Linked DNA regions of Homo sapiens. The protein of the gene in region 2 interacts with the protein of the main gene of each other region in a biochemical or structural test. Each region holds a gene or a part of one and is shown on either strand. Other genes may lie near its edges.

Evidence for each region. Proteins that work in one complex are often made in the same cells at the same time.
Region 1: the proteins of CYB5A (region 2) and CYP3A5 interact in a biophysical measurement, tested with the Homo sapiens proteins (one study listed by IntAct).

Annotation. Positions count from the first base shown.
Region 1 is NC_000007.14:99,676,987-99,684,861, reverse strand, and holds the start of CYP3A5 (cytochrome P450 3A5), read left to right. Parts: upstream 1-4,865; 5' UTR 4,866-4,965; coding exon 4,966-5,036; intron 5,037-7,875. UniProt on the Homo sapiens protein: A cytochrome P450 monooxygenase involved in the metabolism of steroid hormones and vitamins.
Region 2 is NC_000018.10:74,253,942-74,260,963, forward strand, and holds part of CYB5A (cytochrome b5), read right to left. Parts: intron 7,004-7,022; coding exon 6,974-7,003; intron 2,913-6,973; coding exon of another isoform or gene 2,904-2,912; exon of another isoform or gene 1,998-2,903; intron 1,835-1,997; coding exon 1,800-1,834; intron 1-1,799.

The DNA.
Region 1 (7,875 bases), on a different chromosome or scaffold from region 2:
CATTAACTCCTCCTGAGCTCTGATAAAAGAATCAAAATTTCTCAATAATTTCATCCAAAATTATTAATGAAAATAAGAATTATTTTGATGGCTCTAACAGTGACATTTATATCATCTGTTTTATCTGGAGCATTCTATAATAAGTTTATATTAAGCAAATCAATAAAAACCTCTTACAAAAGTATCATCGGATACTTTCCTGAACATTAAGGAGAAATCTATAGAACTGAATGAATGAGAACCAACAAGTAAATATATGTGATCATTGTAACCATTGTTGGTGTGGGGCATTTGTCAGAACTCCAATGTGATTATTAACATAGGTGAGAATTAATCCACTGTGACTTTGCCCATTGCTTAGAAAGAACATTCATAGTTTAATTATGCCTTTTTTGACCAAGCACAGTGGCTCATGCCTGTAATCCCAGCACTTTGGGAGGCCGAGGTGGGTGGATCACCTGAGGTCAGGAGTTCGAGACCAGCCTGACCAACATGGTGAAACCCCATCTCTACTAAAAATACAAAAATTAGCTAGGTGTGGTGGTATGCACCTATAATCTCAGCTACCCAGGAGGCTGAGGCAGGAGAATCACTTGAACCTGGAGGCAGAGGTTGCAGTGAGCCGAGACGCACCATTACACTCCAGCCTGGGTGACAGAGTGAGATTCCATCTCAAAAAAAAAAAAAAAAAATTATGCCTTTTTGAAGCACATACATTTTATAACATACAACTGAATCCCTTATTATATTATTAGTTTTGATTTAATGTTTTCAAACCATCTCCCCTGATATTTCTGGGAGATGGGAAACATGTTTTCTTACACCTCTTGCATTCCATTCTCAACTCCCAACTGTCTTACTGCAATGAACACTTAATAAGAAACAGTCAATTGGTCAATTGATTGGGCAACAGGCTAAACACACTCATTCCTTGTCTGTTCCCACTTCTTTCTTTACTTTCCCTTCCTGAGTAACTTATCCTAAAGTCATTAGGTGGGTGGCAGCCAGATGGTGGCCACACATTAAGGTAGAAAAGAGAGTGTCATGATGGTTCCAAGTCAGAGACCTAGTAGGGTGAGGATCAAGTAGGTGTTCACGTGGAGAAACAGCCCGGCCTGTGTGTGGGAGTCCAAGCAAGCAGAGAAAATGTCGACACAGAGGGGTGGCCTGAAAAAGCAGCCAGAGCCTAAACAGGGCATGGAGAACATATTTAGGGCATGAGGTGAGGAGGGCATCCATGAGTGGGAAGGGATGGGTGAGGTTTCACTACATAAAGGGGATTGATGAAATAAGTAAATAAAGTATACTGGAAGCCAGGTGTGTCACTTTTGCAGAAAAGAGTCATGGATTCAGAAAGGGAGAAAACTAGCAGGAATCCTATGAAATTAGATTAAAATGGATGTATCCATGTATATTCATACCCTTCTAGATAGATAAATGGTTAGATAGGTGATAAAAAGATAACAAGAGGACAAGATAATTAGATAGACATAAATGTATGTATGTGTTTGTGTGTGTGTACAAAAAAACATATACTCCCTACTTCTCTCCACTGATAGGGCTAGGTAACAATGGCATTTCAATAGCAATGAGCACACTTAGTGGCCAGATCTTGGCTTATTAATACCATTTTCCACTGAAAGGAACCAGAGCTTTTTAGAGAAATGGCTGATTCCAGGGCCAGGATTAAGAATGTTCAAGATAAGCCTAGGATACATTTTGTGCCAGGAAGCAAGAAGATGTTCAAATGATTTCCAAGTAATGTTTGGAAATGATATTTGAAAATGATTTCCAAATGATATTTCCAAATGATTTCCAAATGATATATGGAAACACTTAAAGACTCCACTAAAGAACTATTAGATCTGATAAACAAATTCAGTAATGTTGCTGGATACAAAATCAACATACAAAAACCAGTAGCATTTCTGCATGCCAACAGTGAACAATCTGGCAAAAATAAAAAATGTAATCCCATTTACAATAACCCCAAATAAAACTAAATACCTGGGAATTAACTTAAGAGAAAGATGTCTACAATTAATATTGTAAAACACTGATGAAGGAAATTGAAGAAGACACAAAAAAGAAGGATATTCCATGTTTATATATTGTAAGCATTAATATTGTTAAAAATGTCCATACTACCCAAAGCAATGCACAGATTCAATGCAGTCTCTCAAAATACCAATGGCATTCTTCAAAGAAATAGAAAAAAAAAAACCCTAAAATTTGTATGGAACCACAAAAGACCCAGAATAGCGAAAGCTACCTTCAGCAAAAAGAACAAAACTGGAGGAATCATATTACCTGACTTCAAATTATACTACAGAGGTATAATAACCAAAACAGTATGGTACTTGTATAAAAACAGACACAGACCAATGAAATAGAATAGAGAACCCAGAAACAATTCCACACACCTACGGTGAACTCATTTTCAACAATGTTGTCAAGAACATACACTGGGGGAAAAGACAGTCTCTTCTGGTGCTGGGAAAGCTGGATTTTAACATGCAGAATAATGAAACTAGAACCCTGTATCTCACCAGACACAAAAATCAAATCAAGGTGGACGAAAGACTGAAACCTGGCTGAGTGCCGTGGCTCATGCCTGTAATCCCAGCATTTTGAGAGGCCGAGGCGGGTGTATCACTTGAGGTCAGGAGTTCAAGACCAGCCTGGCCAACATGGTGAAACCACATGTCTACCAAAAAATACAAGAGTTAGCTGGACATGCTGGTGCGTGCCTGTAGTCCCAGCTACACAGAAGGCTGAGGTGGCAGAATCACTTGGACCCAGGAGGCGGAGGTGGCAGTGAGCTGAGATCATGACAATGCACCCCAGCCTGGGCAAGAGAGTGAGACTCTGTCAGAAAAACAAAAAACAAAAAAACAAAAAACAAAACTGAAATCTGAGACCTCAAACGATGAAACTGCTACAAGAAAACATTGTGGAAACTCTTCAGGATATTGGTCTGGGCAAAACTTTCTGAAGAACTACCCCACAAGCACAGGCAACCAAAGCAAAAATGGACAAATGGATCAGATCAAGTTAAAAAGCTTCTGTACCACAAAGAAAGCAATCAACAAAGTGAAGACACAAACCACAGAATGGGAGAAAATATTTTCAAAGTCACACTCTGACAACAGATTAATAGCCAGAATACATGAAGCGCTCAAACAACTCTGTAAGGAAAAATCTAATAATCCAATCAAAAAATGGGCAAAATTTGAATAGACATTTTTCAAAAGAAGACATACAAATGCCACATAGGCATATGATAAGGTGCTCAACATCACTGGTCATTAGAGAAATGCAAATCAAAACCACAATGAGATATCATCTTACCCCAGCTAAAATGGTTTTTATCCAAAAGACAGGCAACAACAAATGCCAGCGAGAATGTGGAGAAAAGGGAACCCTTGTACACTGTTGGTGTAAATTAGTGCAACCACTATAGAGAACAATTTGGAGGTTCCTCAAAACATTAAAATTAACATTAAATAGAGCTACCACAATATCCAGAAATCCCCATGCTGGGTATATACCTGGAAGAAAGGAAATCATATATTGAAGAGATAACATCACTCCAATATTCACAATAGCCACTATTCACAAATGCCAAGATTTGGAAGCAACCTAAGTGTCCATCAACAGATGAATGGATAAAGAAAGTACTCCAATTATACACAATGGAGCACAATTCAGCCATGAAAAAAGCATGAGATCCTGTTATCTGTAATAATATGGATGGAACTGGAGGTCATCATGTTAAGTGAAATAAGCCAGGCACAGAAACACAGATATTGCAAGTTCTCACATACTTGTGGGATCTACAAATCAAAACAACTGAGCTAATGTCTGGGCCTTAGTCAGTGTTGTACCCAAGTACTGGGAGCACAGCTTTTAAAATACATCATGAATGCTTTAATACAGGAATGAATAGATGAGAGGCACAAACTGGTTGGGTGTTCTTCTGATACACAGTATCTTCCTTGACAGATTCAGTACAACTCTCAACAGGTAAGTCTCTTCATGTTATGTTACCTTATGAGGAATTAAGTGGCAGAACATGATTTCTATTATTTTCCTTTGCAGAACAAGACCAACTTTATTAGTTGGGACACAGTGTGGCTGCATTTGAGTCCCAAGCAACCATTAGTCTATTGCTATCACCACAGAGTCAGAGGGGATGAGACGCCCAGCAATCTCACCCAAGACAACTCCACCAACATTCCTGGTTACCCACCATGTGTACAGTACCCTGCTAGGAACCAGGGTCATGAAAGTAAATAATACCAGACTGTGCCCTTGAGGAGCTCACCTCTGCTAAGGGAAACAGGCATAGAAACTTACAATGGTGGTAGAGAGAAAAGAGGACAATAGGACTGTGTGAGGGGGATAGGAGGCACCCAGAGGAGGAAATGGTTACATTTGTGTGAGGAGGTTGGTAAGGAAAAATTTTAGCAGAAGGGGTCTGTCTGGCTGGGCTTGGAAGGATACGTAGGAGTCATCTAGAGGGCACAGGTACACTCCAGGCAGAGGGAATTTCGTGGGTAAAGATGTGTAGGTGTGGCTTGTGAGGATGGATTTCAATTATTCTAGAATGAAGGCAGCCATGGAGGGGCAGGTGAGAGGAGGGTTAATAGATTTCATGCCAATGGCTCCACTTGAGTTTCTGATAAGAACCCAGAACCCTTGGACTCCCCGATAACACTGATTAAGCTTTTCATGATTCCTCATAGAACATGAACTCAAAAGAGGTCAGCAAAGGGGTGTGTGCGATTCTTTGCTATTGGCTGCAGCTATAGCCCTGCCTCCTTCTCCAGCACATAAATCTTTCAGCAGCTTGGCTGAAGACTGCTGTGCAGGGCAGGGAAGCTCCAGGCAAACAGCCCAGCAAACAGCAGCACTCAGCTAAAAGGAAGACTCACAGAACACAGTTGAAGAAGGAAAGTGGCGATGGACCTCATCCCAAATTTGGCGGTGGAAACCTGGCTTCTCCTGGCTGTCAGCCTGGTGCTCCTCTATCTGTGAGTAACTGTCCAAACTCCTCTCTTTGTTTCCTTGGACTTGGGGTGCTAATCGGGCCCCTTTTCCCTTATCTGTTTTGAAGATCAAAAGAGATGTTCAAGGAGAAGTAGCTGAAGTGTTGGACGCTACAAACGCATAGAAGTTATTATTATCTTATGCAGATCTATGAATGAATAAATAAGCATTTCTCCCATCCACCTTCTAATTTTGGTGACTAGGAGGGTTTAGGGACAGCATTTGGTAGTGGGAATGATTTGATTAGCTTAGATCTGACGAAGACTAATCAATGAAAACATGGCAGCGGCAGATTACAAACTGCTGATCATGATGGACAGTGTGATCCTCATCCCCTTCCCAGGCTCTGGGGATTCTGGGTACAGGAAGGAGTGGCTTGCATTTTTGTCTCATTAATTCGCTTTCTGGGTTCTGTGTCTGCTGGAAGGGATGTGTAGCTGTATTGCCCCTGTAGACCTGGTTCCTGCTCCCCCGCCTTCCAACCCAGGATATCATTTACATAACGCACCAGGGGACACCAAGACTTCATGGGAAGCTGTCCCCTGGCTCTTCCCTCTTTCCTGTGCCATGCCCCTGAAAATCCCCTCCCTCCTATGAGTCACTCCTCCACCCTGTCATACACAGGATGGTTTATCTTGCAATGATTAACCTCTAGAGCAAAGGAGACCTGGAGGAAGTTTCGAGGATTTATTCTTTGCTTTAATCTTTTTCCTCCCGTCTCTGGGAGGCTAGGATTAATATAGAGCTTTGTTTCTCACCTAATGGGAATCTACTAGCAGCCTGAAAAGGCAGGAGCCATGAAAGCCAATTTGGATTTTACATATTTTTCCCCTTTATGTTACAGTACAGGAGGGCAAACCCTCTCACTGGTGGGATTCCTGGCATCCTAGAGCAGGTGGAGAGAAGAGTTACTTTCCACTGTGGGTAGTGGAGGCTCCACCTGTCCCATTAACTTCTACCTCAATTTGACTTTTATTAAGAGCAGGGAACCACAATGACATGAAAATAGACACTATAAACCTCATTTTAATTCTTTCACAGAAAGCTTAGGAATTCAGTGAGTTGTGGCAACATGGTTTCCATTGTCTAACATTTTTAAATGAATTGATATGGTTTAAATTCATTCATTTTTAAACCAGAATTTTTTGGAGATAGACTATTTCCAGCATGTTCCTTCTGGATGGTAAAACAGGGCTGTTAGTTCAGTATTTGTGACAATAAGTGTGTGTAAAATAATGTCACCTTTCCTGAATGTCAGGAATATGAGTCTAATGCACAAATGTATACCTCTAAGACAAGACTGCACGTCTTTTCAAATATACCTGTCCGGCCATTTATTTTAATAACTCCTTTTCGAATATACCTGCTTAGCAGATTGTCTTAAACTCTCAGGACAGGGGAGTAAGCAAGACTGTGAGCCAGTGACGATAGCAAAGGCTTCCAGGTAGGATCCATATGAAGTGAGAAAATATTCCTCAGCTCTCAGGGTAGAACTCCAAAGAGATATTCATGGGTCCTGGCCCCACCGTGGAGGTCACTCAAAGGGCAAACAGGTTGGCATCTCATCTGCTTCAAGCCTGGACACAGGGGCACCATCTGTGTCACTCTGTGTGTGGTCTGCCATGTTGTGGGCCGGTCACTACAGACTCGGGCAGCCAGGCAGACAATGCCTTAGCCTTAGACAATGCTGGTGCAGCCCAGGAGTCAGAAAATGCAGTGTAGACCAGGCCCTCCTTAGGCCAACACAATTACATGCAATAGATGACTGGCTTTTCTGTTAGTCTCTTCACTGGACCCAAAGGCTGCATTACTCTACCAGAGGGGAGCTGGAAAGAAACTAAAGAGTTCGCCCAGCACAGCATCTGCCTTGACATGGTACCATGTGAATCTAGACACTCACCAAGATCTTTCCTTGGGGGCCAATGCTGCTGACACATTAACTCAATAGCTTGTCCTCACCTGAGAGGTCAGGTAATGTGTTTAAAGTTCAGGAGCAGAGATTAGTGTCATTGATTTGACATGGCTGTGACAACAAAGGAGGGAACTGAAGTGGGAATACCCAAGGCCACCCTGGCTTTGGCAGGTGGTGCACGCACTTCCACTAACTGTTCTGGGGCAGGGAACCAAATGTATGACTGGGCCTGCTCATGCTGCCCCTGCTGAGTCCTCCAAACCCTGCCCTTCATGTAATTTCTCAGTTTTATTTTATCACATTTTATAAGTCACTGGATGTTTACAAAATGTTTGGAACCTATACTGCCTTGAAGGCTAACCTCTAAAGAGGAGTAAACAAGGTCTTAATACAACTCTCCGGGACGTTTTATCATTACTTATCTTATATGCCATACTGCACCATTTGCTATCAACAGGAAAGTACCTGGACTTTGGAAGGTCCCTCTGTGTCTTTTAGCTGAAAGTACATATGAGGCATGTGGATTCTTTTATGCACATCATCTTTTTCAGCCACATTTTTGTAGTTTGCCTCTCTGGAGCCAACTGTGTGGGGCTAGCAGCTTCACAGCTGAATCAGTGTCTGGCAACCTCTTCCTTCAGCCTCTCTTCTTCCTCCAGTTTTCCATCCCTCAGTCACACCGGAGGGGGAAGGTCTGCAAGGATCCAGAACCATCAGTTGGAGGAGTTTGCACATGACTCATGAAAGATGAGTTCCAGGCAGGCCTGCCATAGTGAACACCAGGCTTAATGGGTTTTTCCTCAGAGATACTTCACGTACAGAGGCAGTGAACTGACTGCTTTCTGGTTGACCACCTTGAAAAAGATGAGTGTGCCTGGCACTGTGCTTCTCAGGTGAGTATGACCTGAGAA
Region 2 (7,022 bases):
GCCAAGGCAGACGGATCACTTGAGGTCAGAAGTTTGAGACCAGCCTGGCCAACATAGTAAAAACCTTCTACCAAAAAATACAAAAAGTAGCTGGGCGTGGTGGCAGTAGCTAATTGTAATCCCAGCTACTTGGGAGGCTGGGGCAGGAGAATCGCTTGAACCTGGGAGGCAGAGGTTGCAGTGAGCCGAGATCACGCCACTGCACTCCAGCCTGTGTGATAGAGCGAGACTGTCTCAAAAACAAACTAACAAAAATAAACAAACCAAAAAATGAATGCCCCACCAGCTGTAAAGTTGAAGAGTATGGGCCCTGTGATGATTAACACTGCCATTAACACCACAGCTTTAAGCTTAGGTTTGGAAAATCTAATCTTTACTACCTGTGCTGAAGTGGATTTAAAGGGTTAAGAAACAGAATGGCCAGACTACTTGGTGTGTGGTCCACAGGTCTAAATTCACCAAAAAAAAAAAAAAAAAAGCCTAAATTTACAGTCCTGATGCATAGAATTTCGATCTATAAATTACAGATTACAAATCAAATCAGGGACAAAGGAGGGATGAGCTATAATTTCTATTTGAATCTTTTTTTTTTTTTTGATACAGAGTCTTGCTCTGTTGCTCAGGCTGGAGTGCAGTGGCACGATCTTGGCTCACTGCAAGCTCCGCCTCCTGGGTTCACACCATTCTCCTGCCTCAGCCTCCCGAGTAGCTGGAACTACAGGCGCCCGCCACCATGCCCGGCTAATTTTTTTGTATTTTTAGTAGAGACAGGGTTTCACTGTGTTAGCCAGGATGGTCTCGATCTCCTGACCTCGTGATCCACCTGCCTCGGCCTCCCAAAGTGCTGGGATTACAGGCGTGAGCCACCGCGCCTGGCCTCTATTTGAATCTTTAAATTAGATTTGAATCTTTAGATTTTGATCTTTGACTTAATTTCTTAGAAAAATGGAAATTAATGTGTAGGCTTTAGAAATAGACTTGGTATACATATGTGTTTCATAGGGACTACAAGTATAATCCTTTCATAAGGATTACAAGTGAAACTTTCATAAGAATTACAAGTGTAACTTTTGTCTTAGTGGGGTTTGGTGGGGTTTTTCAATTTCACTTTAGAAAGAAACTGGCTTGTTAATGAAGAGTAAGGTGAAATACTGCCTGCAGGCAGGGAATATTCCAGAACACCAACGGACTGAGGCAGTTAAATTTGACAGGATGAAATACAAATGTGTGGTTTTGAGCTTGGGTCCAAAAAAGTGGCTACTACTGAAGTCAATATGGTAGAGCTGCCAAAGATGTTAATGTGCACTTGGACTATCATAAACAAATCTGGTGCCTAGAACAATTGAGTCGTGCTACACATAGATTACCAGCTTCAACTTTAAAGCTAATAAAAATGACAAAGGAAAACTGACCCATGTTTAGGGAAATGTAATCACTAGAGTTTAAGAAACAGACATGGATTGAAAGGAAGGAAATGTCTGCTTGGATGAGCCAGGGAGGTGCTGTGGGACTGGCCGCCTAAGATGCTGCCCTGGGGGAAAAGGAAATGCAATTGTTCTGTTTGTTCCTTGGGGTGGATGCAGCCAGCCAGCTAGATCACGTGGCTGTGGACAGTGTTCACAGTCGGCTACCTGAAAGTTTGAGGCTGAGTGCTCTGAACAGTCTGGCCTTCAGCAGAAGGTTGCTGAGACAGCACAGTGTCAGGCCCAGGAACCCAGAAGGTGGGGGACGCACCTTGTCCAACCTGGACCCATGAGCCCTCCCACCCACTACTGCTTTAAAAGAAAGCTACCACATACCTGGAACTAGAATCAATAGTAGTGATAAGAGTTTCCTGAAACACGAGAGGAAAAAGTAAAGTAAGTTCAAGGGAATGCTGAACTTATTTCATTGACTAAAATCCTGTTTGAAAATAAGAACACAATATTTTATGCAATGCATTCTTCAGAAGATGTCGAAAGGGAAAATTATAAACTTCTTTTCACTAAAATGCCTAACTTTGTTTTCTTCCAGAGTAAAACATTTTAATCATTATATTTACTTAAGGACATAACCTCAATAATTTAAAAACATTCAAAATTAATATGCTACATAAAATATCTTGCACACGCTAGGCATCTAAATAATGCAGAAACTGAAAACAGACATTCATGTTCACATACACACAATCCCACGTCACCTTTAGAAAAAGCAGTTTAATTCTTCAAAAGCATGAACACAATGTTCAATAAAAACATCAGTTATTTCATTCAAATCTGACAGATGTAAAAAAGTGTACCTAAATTACATTAAATATATGTGAACCAAAAAGAAAAAAGAGGACTGCCATTTTAAGTTCTACATTCTAGGCCAACTTTCCCGGGGGGCTGCTTTAATTCTGACCAGACGGAACCAGCAAGACACCAGACCAGCCTCACAGGACTGCTGTGCCCGGCGTCACACTTGTCACCAGCTGGTCACTGTCAGCCTAACAGCAAATCCCCAGATAAGGAAGCCCTGTTTTTATCCTCCAGAGCTTTCTGGGAGCAGCTCTTTTGAGTAGCACTAAAGTGAATGGACAATGGTTCTGGAAAAACGCATACTTCTCCAACAGCTGAAAAGCTAAGGTCTAGTGAAATATCAACTTTTTGGGGCTTGAAAATGGGTTAAGAAGCATTCTTTTGATGTTCCACACCAACATAAGCATTAGGGCCTCAAACAGAAGTTGCCATAAATAAGACAGCTTCAGATCTGCAGTTTCCCAAAGCAAAGATAAAAAGCATTAGCAAAACAATCAGCGGCCTGCAGTAAGGCAAGCATCACTCTGCAAAGCACGTTAGAGAAACTCCCGTGAAAAGACAGACCCCTTTCAGGGAAAAGCAAGCAAAGCAGTTATGAGACCCACCAACCTTGAAACACCGCCTTTAAGGTTCCTGACACAGTAGGGGAAAAAAGGTAAGTCATTTAAAAATAAAATTGCAAATTTATTATCTATTCCAGCAATTTTAAAATCTTAGCATCTATAAAAAGTATTCATAACTACAGCAAGAGGATTTTCCAAATTGTGTATATATGAATAAAATTAACAAAAATTACTAGAAATAATCAAAATATACAAAAATATTAGTTAGCTATTAGAGGACACAATCAGTTCTGAAACAAAAGAATCACTGAAGGTAAAATATGATTGTCAAACTAGAAAGTTAAGTTTGAAACAGCCAACGGAAGGCAAACACAAACATCCACGGCGTCGTTAAAATGAGGGCAGGCATTTCACCAACGTGCTGACAACTCTGGAACCTCCCACCTGCCCTCCTGCTGCCTTTGTGGTTACCATGGGAGAGCGCTAAGGTTAAAACACTACTCTGGCACCAGCATCATCAGCAACAGCCATGAACTCTAAAGAGGGGAACTTGAAATAATCGTATCACCTTTTGATTGTTGATTATCTTCTTGGCTCTGTAGCCCAGGATGCTTGACAGTTAAAGGAAGTTTGAATTACCACTTTGCACTTTGATGGAAAAGTAATTGGTCTTTAGTGGTCAGTGCTCTGAGGGCCTCACTTGGGTTTAGGGACGTGACTATCAAAGAATGTCAGCAATGAACAAGGAGAAAGAATATGGTTTTTATGATTGGCTCTGCCACCTGTTCACTCCATGACTTCGAGGTTCAACTTCAGTAAAAAGAGGTTAACAATTAAATCAGTGTGTCAAAGTCTGGGCATGGTGGCTCAGGCCTGTAATCCCAGCACTTTGGGAGGCCGAGATTGGCGGGTTGCTTGAGTCCAGCAGTTCGAGACCAGTCTGGGCAACATGGTGAAACCCTGTCTCTACAGAAAAATACAAAAATTAGCTGGGCACAGTGCTGTGTGCCTATGGTCCAGCTACTCGGGAGGCTGAGGTGGGAGGATTGCTTGACCCCGGGAGGTGGATGGTGCAGTGAGTCCAGATCCATGCCGCTGCATTGCAGCCTGGGCAACAGAGTGAGACCCCGTCTCAAAAAAGTAAAATAAGTATGTCATGCATAATGACTTATAAAAGTCATGTGAATCAGTGTAAATTACAGTAAGCTCCATAAATTATGAAAAGCATGCAAAGCCCAACAAGCTTTTGTGAATCAGAGTCATCTCATTTATAAGTTCATCTAACGTAAACTTTAGTGGGAAGCCTATCTCCCTTAAAATACTGACAGAGTGATGTCTAACACGGCAAGCCCAGAACCTAGAGGAGAAGCTTAAGGGACTGCAACTGACCAGCCTGAGATGGGTGCTAGATGGTTCTGGAGCACGTCTGTGAGCCGGGTGCTTAACACTTCCCAGCTGCAATGTACCTACCTCCCTTGGCAGGTCTAACATGGAGACACTGTGAGGACCAAATAACTTCTACAAGAATGCTTTCAAAACTATAACCAAGAAGGGGTATTGCTACGACTAATATTCTCTATGTAAGCAAATGTGATAGAAACATTTATGTTAGATTAAAATGCATGATTTCTAAGTCTACAAATATCTTAATTTGGTAACTTAACACTATGCTTTCCTTAGGGCAGGTTCAAGCTAATAATCTTTACTGCATTTTATTTCACTATTCAACTAGATATTTTAAGCAGGCAACATCTCAAAACTTTAGACCACAGTGTACATTCTTCAACCTGGAGATCGGCCGATGGTTATACAGACACATGACAAAAGAAATCCCTAAGGACACTCTTTACTTCCACTAAACCAAAAGCACAAGAAAGATACATCCAGAAAAATGCTCATGTATTTCCTTTCATTTCATCTGCTTATGGCCTCTCAAAAAGGCCAGCAAGTTCTTGTCCCACATTCTTCCGGTTCTGCTCTCACTGAAGCAAAGTCACAATAAAGAAGAGTTGTTTAAAAAATACTCAGAAGTTAGTTAATCTGTAAAATCTCTGAAGAGAGTAAAAACATCTACTTTAGGCTGGGTGCCGTGGCTCACACCTGTAATCTCGGCATTTTGGGAGGCTGAAGCAGGCGAATGCCTGAGGTCAGGAGTTCAAGACAAGCCTGGCCAACAATGGTGAAACCCCATCTCTACTAAAAATACAAAAATTAGCTGGGCATGGTGGCAGGCACCTGTAATCCCAGCTACTCGGGAGGCTGAGGCAGGAGAATTGCTTGAACCCAGCAGGTGGATGTTGCAGTGAGCCGAGATCACGCCATTGCACTCCAGCCTGGGTGACAAGAGCAAAATTCCGTCTCAAAAACAAACAAACAAAAATCTACTTTAAAAAGTTAGTGTGATTCTCAAACTTCAGTGAGACCTTCTACATCTAACAAGCTGATCAAGTATCAACTGCTAATGCTGGAATGAAGTAAGCCATGTCTTAACGCACAAAGGGCTGTGCCTCAATGTTGTCAGGAAAGCTTTCTTTGATACTAAAAGCTAAAGTCCCAGAATTTACCACATAAACTTGCTCTGTTCCCAAAATATTCTCAGTATCAAAGTAACTGCCACTTTAAAATAGAAAATAAGAACAATAAATAGTAATGGGCAATTAATCCAACAGAGTATAGGCTGTAATACACGTGTTCTAAAAGCAAATAAGGAAGAAAGTCTTTGTCCTTTAAACTGAAAGTAGTTATGGCAGGAGACACATGTACAATCTTACACCTACAAGTGTTTTCTGCTTGTAGTCTTTATGGTTAGCGAGACGGCTGGCCCTGCGGTCATCTAAGTTCATCTAATGAATCTTAAACCTTTGTTTTGCTATAGCTAAATGACTTATACCAAAATGATTAACATGCTGAACACATGATAAAAAAAATATATATTCTTCCCTTAAGAGACTTCAGAGAAAAAGGAAAAACTTTATGCAACACAGAATTTCAGCTGTCCAAAAAGTAGCCTCAAAAAAGATGCTAAAGTCAAATGAACTCACAGCAAGGATTCTAAGCAATTGTCACAGAGGCCATTGAAATTCTGAAGTCAACTTTTTATCTCCTGGAAGTACTCATATCATTCACATTGAACTTAAGTCTTTCTTGAATAAGGAGAGAATATAAAAAAAATTGCTTTGTACTAAATAGTATTACACAAGACTTTTATTGTACTATCAGGGATGTTGAGGTAAATGTGGCCTTTATGCTTATATTATTGGATTAACTGCTTTGATCCTTTTGTAGATTAAAGATGATGTCTTGGCAGCAACAGCTCAAAAAATCAGCTCACCAGTTCTCGACACAAGCTCAGTGGGGTCTTGCTGTTGCACTTTCTCTAATGAAACCAAGAATTTACACCAAAACGAAAAATTATACTTTCTTTTTTGTCATTTGATTTAAGCAAAACTTTCCCCTGTAGTCCTTTAATTAGACACTAGAAACTATTTTGCCTACTTGTACTTTTCAGGAACTTAGGCTGTGCTCTTCCATTCTCACCCTACATTTATCTTCAAATATAAGTGAGATGGTCAGTTCAGAGAGAAAGGCTAGTGAATCAGAACATAAAACTAGTATTGCCAGAGTTATTTTCCTTTCCCAAGGAAAAGTAAGTCAAAAGGGTATTATTTAATTTCATTAAATTCATCTGACAAGTATTTATTGAACACCTACTATGCCCAAGAGACTTAAAGATGAAGAAGACATGAGACACACCCTTAAAGATTTAAGTAATAAAACCACTATCCATTCAGATTTTAAGTTCTCTGAAAATAAGGCTTGTGTCAAATCTTTTAGATCAGAAGCACGTGCTACCATAAAAAGTAGCTCTTCAAATGGTATATATTGATAATTATGATGAAAAAAGTAGTTTACTGACAGCCTTAAAAAAATTACACACACGCCATCCTAACAAATCATACTGACAGGTTTCCGTAAATAAAAAATACTTGCTGAGCCAGTAGGTTACATATTCATTTATCTAGAAAGACCTGTGCTGGCATCAGTCAGGTAAATAAAAACCCTCTGCCTTCAGTTTGACAAGTATTAAATACAACGAGAACATCCAGAGATACTTGAGATGGTCACACTTACCGGAGGCTTGTTTAACTTTGGTCTGTCATCCTGCAATGAAAAGATAAGG